Regions from separate parts of the Homo sapiens genome. Here region 2 is linked to region 1. The links come from fine-mapping of genetic effects on gene expression. Tissue or cell type: prefrontal cortex. Region 1 holds a variant in brackets; the other region holds the start of a gene. All regions are shown on one strand. Distances are from middle to middle. Region 1 overlaps LINC01389 (long intergenic non-protein coding RNA 1389). Region 2 holds the start of FOXE3 (forkhead box E3).

The links. PIP is the estimated chance that this variant, and not a neighbour inherited with it, causes the effect.
Region 2: FOXE3 starts here. The variant in region 1 is the best candidate, but not a certain one, in a credible set for the expression of FOXE3 in prefrontal cortex (GTEx, PIP 0.54).

The regions. Positions count from the first base shown.
Region 1 is chr1:47,389,143-47,393,526 of GRCh38, forward strand. All of the region lies in intron 3 of LINC01389 (long intergenic non-protein coding RNA 1389), which reads right to left. Among named protein-coding and RNA genes, the nearest start is that of FOXE3, 25 kb to the right of the region's middle. The variant G/A (reference allele first, on the strand shown) is at 1,797.
Region 2 is chr1:47,414,475-47,418,858 of GRCh38, forward strand. It overlaps FOXE3 (forkhead box E3), which reads left to right and starts at 1,811. Exons shown (of 1, transcript NM_012186.3): 1 at 1,811-3,578. The coding sequence starts at 1,842. The coding sequence ends at 2,801. The region is part of intron 1 of LINC01389 (long intergenic non-protein coding RNA 1389); the gene reads right to left.

The DNA.
Region 1 (4,384 bases):
CAACCACAAGTCCCATCCCTCCTCCCTCCTAGCAGAACGCATGCTTCAGCACTCCCTGCTTGTCCTGTGGCTGCTCCATGGAGAACTGGATCTGTCAGGTCTTGATCATGATGTGACTTCTACCTGGAACTTTTTCCACAGGAGAAGCTGTCAAAATCTCACCTATTTTTCAGTCTATGTCAGAATCTCCCAGTGCAAGACTGCCAGAGTCAAGAATACATGTTCAAGTAATTCAGTGAATGAATTAATGCCTCACTCTAATACCTGACTCTGCCTTCCCCATTAACCCCAGCTGGAGAGGTCTCTCACCTTCTAGCACCTGCCTCCTGGCTTATGTGTGTGTGTGTGTGTGTATATATATTTCAATAAAACAAGTGCCAGGCTGGGTGCAGTGGCTCACGCCTGTAATCCCAGTTACTTGGGAGGCTGAGGAAGGAGAATCTCTTGAACCTGGGAGGTGGAGGTTGCAGTGAGCTGAGATCGCACCACTGCACTCCAGCCTGGGCAACAGAGAGAGACTATCTGAAAAAAAAAAAAAAATTCCCCCCACCACGCCGCCCCCCCCACAAAATGCCAGCTTGAAAACACAAGCTAGAGGCAGACTCAAGATGTCATGAAGTCAACCCCTTCCAGCATCCCTGACAGGTAGCTACCCTAGCAACAGATAACTCACCCCTCCCTGAGCAGCCCTCTTCACTGGATACTTCAGACTTCCAGAAAGTTCCACTGTGTTCTTCCACATTCTCAGAGCTCTTTCATCATGACAGGGGCTGAAGCAACGTCTGATAATGCAGTAGGAGAATAAGTGCAAAGTGCAGGGGAGGGTGTGCAAACTTTCCAGAGAAGTGGGGCAGGGAATTGGGATCAATTACAGAGGGAGTATGAGTATAAAAACTATCATTACAGCTGCTGTTTAGTGAATGTTTACTGTGCTCATGACTGCAAATCCTTATAGAGGGCAAGCTCGAATCCAGGTCTGCCTGTCTGCAGTCTAGTCTAAAACACCTCTTGGAACATAAACAAAATAAGAGTTTTGGGAGCAGATGGGTAGGGGGACAGCCAGGTGTATTAATTTTCTTTTGCTACATAATAAATCACCATTAACTTAGTGACTTAAAACAACATCCATCCCTGGGTGCGGTGGCTCACGCCTGTTATCCCAGCACGTTGGGAGGCTGAGGCAGGTGAATCACAAGGTCAGGAGAGTGAGACCATCCTGGCTAACATGGTGAAATCCCGTCTCTGCTAAAAATACAAAAAAATTAGCTGGGCACGGTGGCACGTGTCTGTAGTCCCAGCTACTTGGGAGGCTGAGGGAGGAGAATCGCTTGAACCAAGGAGGTGGAGGTTGCAGTGAGCCGAGGTCGTGGCACTGCACTCCAGCCTGGGCGACAGAGCAAGACTGTCTCAAAACAAACAAACAAACAAAAAAAACCACCATCCATTTTATTACCTCACAGTTCTGTAGGTCAGAAGTCTGTGCAGGCTTGACTGGGTTTTCTGCCCACAGTATCACAAGTCTGAAATCAAGGCTTCAGCTGGGCCTGGCTCTCATTCAGAGGCCCTGGGAAAGAATCACTTCCAAGCTCATTCACATTGTTGGCAGAATCCATTTCCTAGCAAGTCCTCATTACCATGGTCACTGCTGGCCATGGGGTGGCCTTGGTACTAGAGGCTGCTCTAGGGTCCCTTCCACGTGCACTCTCCACTTTCAAGATAGAGCCCTCCTCATGCTTTGAACTACTGACTTCTTTTCTGTCACCAGCTGGACAAAATTCTGCTTTTAAAGGGCTCAC[G/A]TGATTATCTTAGGCCTACCTGGTTAATCTCCCTATCTTAAGTCAACTGGTTAGTAACCTTAATTGCTTCTGCAAAATTCTTGCCATGTAATGTAACACATTCCACAGAAGAGCTAATTATCCAAGGGTGAAGGTCATTGGGGCAGGCAGAGTTCTATGATGTCCCCGGTGACCCTCACCCTTGTACAGTGCCCTCCCCTTTGAGTGTGTGTTGAACCTGTAAGGTTATGTTATGCTATGTGGCAAAAGGTAGATTAACTGGGTGGGCCCAATCAAATCCCATGGGTTCATTAAAAGTGAGTTTTCTCTGGCTGGTAAGAGAGAAGGAAGTGAGAATCAAGGCATGAGAAGTACTTGACCTGCCGTTACTGGCTTTGAAGGTAGTGGGGGCATGTGCAAGGAAGGGAGAATGGCTTCTAGGAGCTCCCCTCACCCCTGGCCGACAGCAAGGAAATGAGGACCTCGGTTCCACAGCTGGAAGGAACATTCTGCCAACAGTGTGAATGAGGCTGAAAGAACTTCTAGATGACAGCCCAGCCCTGCTGACATCTTTTTTTTTTTTTTTTAGACGGAGTCTCGCTCTGTCACCCAGGCTGGAGTGCACTGGCACGATCTCGGCTCACTGCAACCTCCCCCTCCCGGGTTCAGGCGATTCTCCTGCCTCAGCCTCCCGAGTAGCTGGGATTACAGGTGCACGCCACCATGCTTGCCTCATTTTTGTACTTTTAGTAGAGACAGGGTTTCACCATGTTGGCCAGGCTGGTCTTGAACTCCTGACCTCAAGTGATCCGCCAGCCTCGGCCTCCCAAAGTCCTGGGATTACAGATGTGAGCCACTGCGCCCAGCCCCCACTGACATCTTGATTCAGACGTTGTAATACTGTGAGCAGAGATCCCAGTCAGTTGCACTGCCCAGATATATGAACCAGAGGACTGTGAGGTAATAAACGGGATTGCTTTAAGCTGCTCTTTGTGGTAATTTGTTATGCAGCAATAGAAAACTAATATGCCGGGCAAACAGCACATCATTTGCCTGACCTAGGCCATCTCTTATTATCTACCTACATCCTCCTTTTTTCCTCCTCCTCCTATTCCTCTATTTAAAAAATAGTTTCATCTGAATATGACTCGTCCACAAAAAGGCTGATTCTGACACATGCTACAACACAGATGAACCTTGAAGACATTATGCTACATAAAATAAGCTAAGCCAGTCACAAAAATACAAATACTGTATGATTCCAAATATATGAGTAATCAGATTCATAGAGACAGAAAGCAGAATGGTGGTTGCCAGGGGCTGGGAGGATTGGGGAATGGGAGTATTGTTTAATGGGTCTGGAGTTTCAGTTTGGGAAGATGAAAAAGGTTCTGGAGATGAATGGTGGTAACGCTTGCATAACAACATGAAGGTACTTAATGCCATTGAATTGTACAATTAAAAATGGTTAAATGGGCTGGGTGTGGTGGCTCACGCCTGTAATACCAACACTTTGGGAGGCCAAGGTGGGTGGATCACTTGGTGTCAGGAGTTCAAGACCAACCTGGTCAACATGGTGAAACCCCGTCTCTACTAAAAATACAAAAATTATCCAGGTGTGGTGGCACATGCTTGTAATCCCAGCTACTTGGGAGGGTGAGGCAGGAGGATCACTTGAACCTGGGAGGGTGAGATTGTAGGGAGCTGAAATGGTGCCATTGCACTCCAGCCTGGGCAACAGAGCAAGACTTCGTCTCGGAAAAAAAAAAGTTAAATGGTGAATTTTGTGTTACGTTTATTTTAGCACAATAAAAACAATTTTTAAAATAGTCTCATCAAAGTAATGCATATCGTGGTTAAAAAGCAACAGCCTCCATCTCCCTGACACCTTCTATGACGTAAAAGACTTCAGACTCAGCCGTTTCTTCTAAGACTTGCCTCTATATATTTATTATGCTTCTCTTGCCTTTTTTTTCTTAATGTAGGCAGAATAAATGGTAAAGATTTCAAACAGTGAAAATTATGTCTTCATCCAACCCCCATTATCTCTGTCCACAAGCCCCCCTCAAAAAAGCAATGCCAGGTTTCCTGTATATTTTTCCCCTAGGTACTCAATGCATAAAATAAGCATATTCTATACATATATACATAGCTTCTTTCTCCTTTCTTTCTTTCTTTTTCTTCTTTTCTTTCTTTCTCTCTCTCCTTCCTTCCTTTTTTTTTTTTAACAGGAGACCAGAGTTTTATTATTACTCAAACCAGTCTCCCCCAAAACTTGGGGACTGCGGTTTTTAAGGATAAAATGATGGGCAGGTGGTCGGAAAGTGGGGAGTGCTGATTGATCCGGTTGGATATAAAATCTAGGGAGTCGAAGCTGTCCTCTTGCCATGAGTCAGTTTCTGGGCAGAAGCCACAAGACCAGATGAGCTAGTTTATCATTCTGGGTAGGGCCAGCTGATCTGTCGAGTACAGGGTCTTTAGTTACAGAGGAGGAAGGCAGTGGCAATCTGACATGTTAGGAATCCTGTACTGTGACTGTGTAGACAAGGTATGAGGCCAGCTCTCCTGAGGGGCTTTAATTGCTCTATAAGTCAACTTTGATTCCTTAA
Region 2 (4,384 bases), 25 kb after region 1:
TTATGCCCAATGGGCACCTAGATATGCTGACCAGGAGGTGAGGAGAGAAGCTAAGAATCTACTTTGGCAGCTGAAGTTGTGGGAGCTGGAAATACTCTGATTATTTCTAATGTCTCAGCTCAGCCTTAAAGGATGGCATTCTTAGAAGAGTGGGGTGCTAGAGCTTTGAACTTCACATTTAATTCCAGCTCTACCACTTACTACTAGCTGTGTGAAGTCAGGGAAACCACTTAACCTCTCAGAACCTTAGTTTCCTCATTTGCAAAACAGGAATAATAACAGTACTCACTTCACGGGGTGCCCAAACTTAAGTGCAATAATGTACATAAAGTGTTTACCAAATACAAAATGCTCAGTAATGGTGGCTGTGATGTCATCAGCTGAGACTGGAGCTGAGAGAGGGGCCCTTGAGCTCCATGCTTTGAGTTTGGATTTTGAACTGGATTTTGAGTTTGGAGTTTACAGGCCTGCTGTAACTAGCTTTGGTCACCTATACCTAGGGACACTCTATAGCATGGCTGGGGGACTAGGATGGGGCAAGTGAGATGCCCCAAATGTAAGGAGGCCCTGGCTCTCAAGTGCTGACTGCACTTGCAAGGCCCTGAGACTGAGCTCCCCTTAAACTCAGCACCTCAGGCACCTCAGTGGGCTCACTGTCCTTCCAGCCCTGCTCCATGTCCAAGTCCCTTGATCTGCCTGTCCCCAGGACAACCCACTTTAAGACAAGGCTCCTTCACCCTGTAGTTCCCTTGGAGCTGGGGATGGGTCTCCTGTCTCTTGGGAGAAGAAGTTTCCCAAAATAGGCTGGGTGCTGCATCCCCCTGGATGCCAGTTGTGGGTGGAACTTCTCAGACTGAGTTTTTAACAAACACTGCCAAAGACCCCCCATCCCCAGTGAGATGTGAGTGTGGTGTTTCTGGGTCAGAAGGCGGCTTTTTCAGACCCCCAGTCTGTGGAAGCCTACATTTTGTACTGTGTGTGTGGGTGTATGTGTGTGTGTGTGTATGTGAAGAAAAGCTGTTTTCTTTAACAGGGGGGTGTGGAGAGGAGGCAGCCAGAAAGGCAGCTCCAAGTTGTGGATTTCCTGGGGGCTCTTCATTTAAAGCGGCCGCACCACTTTCCACAATTCTGTTTTTTCAGAGAATGCTCTCAAGGCCTGGAGGGAGGGCATGACAGGGGTATGGGGGAGGGGGGTGGCAGAGAGGCAAGATGGTGACCCTGATCTGGAGCAGTCAAACATTCTCCCAGAGACAAAACCGGCCTGGCTCTGCCCTGCCCCGCTGCTTCATTACCTTGGCCCAGGTTCCCTAATGTCTGTGAGTGGGCCTGACACCTCCCCATCAGGATACTGAGGGCTGGCAAGGCGGCCTTCATCTCTGTTCCAGCTGGGGATGGAAGGCCAGGAGAAGGATGGGGGGACCGACTACTGGGAGGAGCAAAATGGGGAGGAGCAAAATGGGGAGGGGGCTGGGAGAGTGAATGGGTGGATTTGTGATTGGGAATGATCCAAAGGAGAGGGGGTAGAAGGAGGGGTGGAAAGGGAAGGGGACTGACCAAATACAGTGGGATGGGGCCAGGGGCTGATATAACCGAGATGGGGAAGGGGTGAGTCTGGGTCTGGGAAAAACTGATCCAAAGGCAGAAAGGGAGGGGCGAAATGGAGGAGGGTACCGTGAACAGAGTAAGGGGGCTGGGAGAGGAAATTAGAGGGGAGGCGCTGGCCAGCAGGCAAGGCCTGAGCCCTCTCCCCCGGCGGTGGTTGGGGGGGGGCCGTGTCCATATAAAGCGGGTCGGCGGCCCCTGCGGTCCCGGAGCCGCGCGGGCAGGGGCTGCCGCAGCCGATGGCGGGGCGCAGCGACATGGATCCGCCCGCCGCGTTCTCTGGCTTCCCTGCCCTGCCAGCGGTCGCGCCGTCGGGGCCGCCGCCGTCGCCGCTCGCAGGAGCCGAGCCAGGGCGGGAGCCAGAGGAGGCGGCGGCTGGCCGCGGAGAGGCGGCCCCCACGCCCGCGCCCGGCCCGGGGCGGCGGCGGCGGCGGCCCCTGCAGCGCGGGAAGCCGCCCTACTCGTACATCGCGCTCATCGCCATGGCTCTGGCGCACGCCCCGGGCCGCCGCCTCACGCTGGCCGCCATCTACCGCTTCATCACCGAACGCTTTGCCTTCTACCGCGACAGCCCGCGCAAGTGGCAGAACAGCATCCGCCACAATCTCACGCTCAACGACTGCTTCGTCAAGGTGCCCCGCGAGCCGGGCAACCCGGGCAAGGGCAACTACTGGACGCTGGACCCCGCGGCCGCAGACATGTTCGACAACGGCAGCTTCCTGCGGCGCCGCAAGCGCTTCAAGCGCGCCGAGCTGCCCGCGCACGCGGCCGCGGCGCCAGGGCCGCCGCTCCCCTTCCCCTACGCGCCCTACGCGCCCGCGCCCGGCCCCGCGCTGCTGGTGCCGCCGCCTTCTGCCGGACCGGGCCCCTCGCCGCCCGCGCGTCTGTTCAGCGTCGACAGCCTGGTGAACCTGCAGCCGGAGCTAGCGGGGCTGGGCGCCCCCGAGCCGCCCTGCTGCGCCGCGCCCGACGCCGCAGCCGCAGCCTTCCCGCCCTGCGCTGCCGCCGCCTCCCCGCCACTCTACTCGCAGGTCCCCGACCGCCTGGTACTGCCCGCGACGCGCCCCGGCCCCGGCCCGCTGCCCGCTGAGCCCCTCCTGGCCTTGGCCGGGCCGGCAGCCGCTCTCGGCCCGCTCAGCCCTGGGGAGGCCTACCTGAGGCAGCCGGGCTTCGCGTCGGGGCTGGAGCGCTACCTGTGAGCCTGCGCCGCGCGGGCAGGCACCTGTGCGACCTGTGCCCCGGACCTGCGGCGCCGCCCTCGAGCGCCCCATCTCTACCCCCCACCCTGGCTTGGAGCACACCCTGCGCCTCTCGTCGTGGCCTCCTGGACTCAAACTCCTGCTACATCCTTCTCCGTCCCCCATCCCTGGGGAGGCTCCCACCATCTCGCCACTGGACAGAAGCGTCCCCTTTGACCTGCCAGCCTCTCATTTCTTCTCCCTCCACTTGTGAGCGCCCCCAGCTTTGCGGCGCCCCCCACCCCAGCGCTGTCTGTGGGTCCCTTGCCCCGGAGCTGACTCGCCTCCAGTGAGTCCATACCCCAGGTTTCCTGGTGAGTTCCAAGCCTTTGGAAGCCAGATCTGTGATCCCAAGCCGCCTCCTCCACCGACTGTACTTCATCAACCTTCTCTCATGTTTTTCCGACACTCCTGGGTCAGACTCCTGGGTTCATGACTTACTTGCTAGCGTCCCTTCATTTTCCCACAAGTTTGCCCCCCACCTCCACTTACCTGTCTGCCCTCAGCTTCTTCCTGGGAGAGAGCCCCCCTTTCACGTAGACACACCTGGCTGCCTTCTTCACGCCCTGAGGACACTTCTTGGAGATTTCAGACAGGCAGCACCAGGGCTCCTGACTGAAAGGGGAGTTGGTGGGCCTTTAGGTCTGCCCCATCCCCTGGAAAACTTAGGACTTATTGGGTTATTATTATTTTTAATTAAAGCTGGTTTAATTAAAAAGAAAGAAACTTTTTTCTGGACTTGGTGTGCTGGCTGGTGACTTGGGGGAGTGGTCTGGGGAGACGGGTGAGCTTTATTCTAGATCTTGGGTTGCCACATGGGGTGAACCTCCTTGTGAGACATCAATCAGAAGTTCATGAAATGGGATTAGGAAGTGATTCTCCAGCAGGATTAGTGGCTAACACAATTTTGTTTTAAAAAGGAAGTGATTCAGCCATAGCTGTGCACATAGTAGGCCTAGTCAAATGCCATCTCCTGCATCTCAGCCTGGTAGAGACGAGATGGGCTGGGCATGTGTGTGTACACACTTGTGTGAATGTATCTGAGCAGCAGGTTGTCTGCTCTCTGGGATTATTCCCAGCTCCCATGGATAAAGGAGCACTGGCCGTTGATTCACTCCTCCAGTTAGTTAATGTGCTGAGCCTGTGCTAGACACTGGGGAAATATTACTGAATGAATGGGCAAAATCCCTGCCTCATGGAGGTTGTGGGCCAGTGGGAAGAGTCATTAATCCAACCATCAACGCTCAGAGAAATAAGATAAGTGCTCTACAGCCTTGCACTCAAAGTGTGGTCCACAGACCTACAACATCACCTGGGAGCTTGTTAGAAATGCAGAATCTGGCAGGACGTGCTGGCTCATGCCTGTAGTCCCAGCATTTTGGGAGGCCAAGGCAGGAGGATCGGTTGAGGCCAGGAGTTTGGGATCAGCCTGGCCTAACGTAGTGAGACCTCATTTAAGTAAATAAATAGAAATGCAGGATCTTGGCCCCACTCAGACTCACTGAATCATCAGATTCTGCATTTTAGCAAAATTCCCAGGTGAC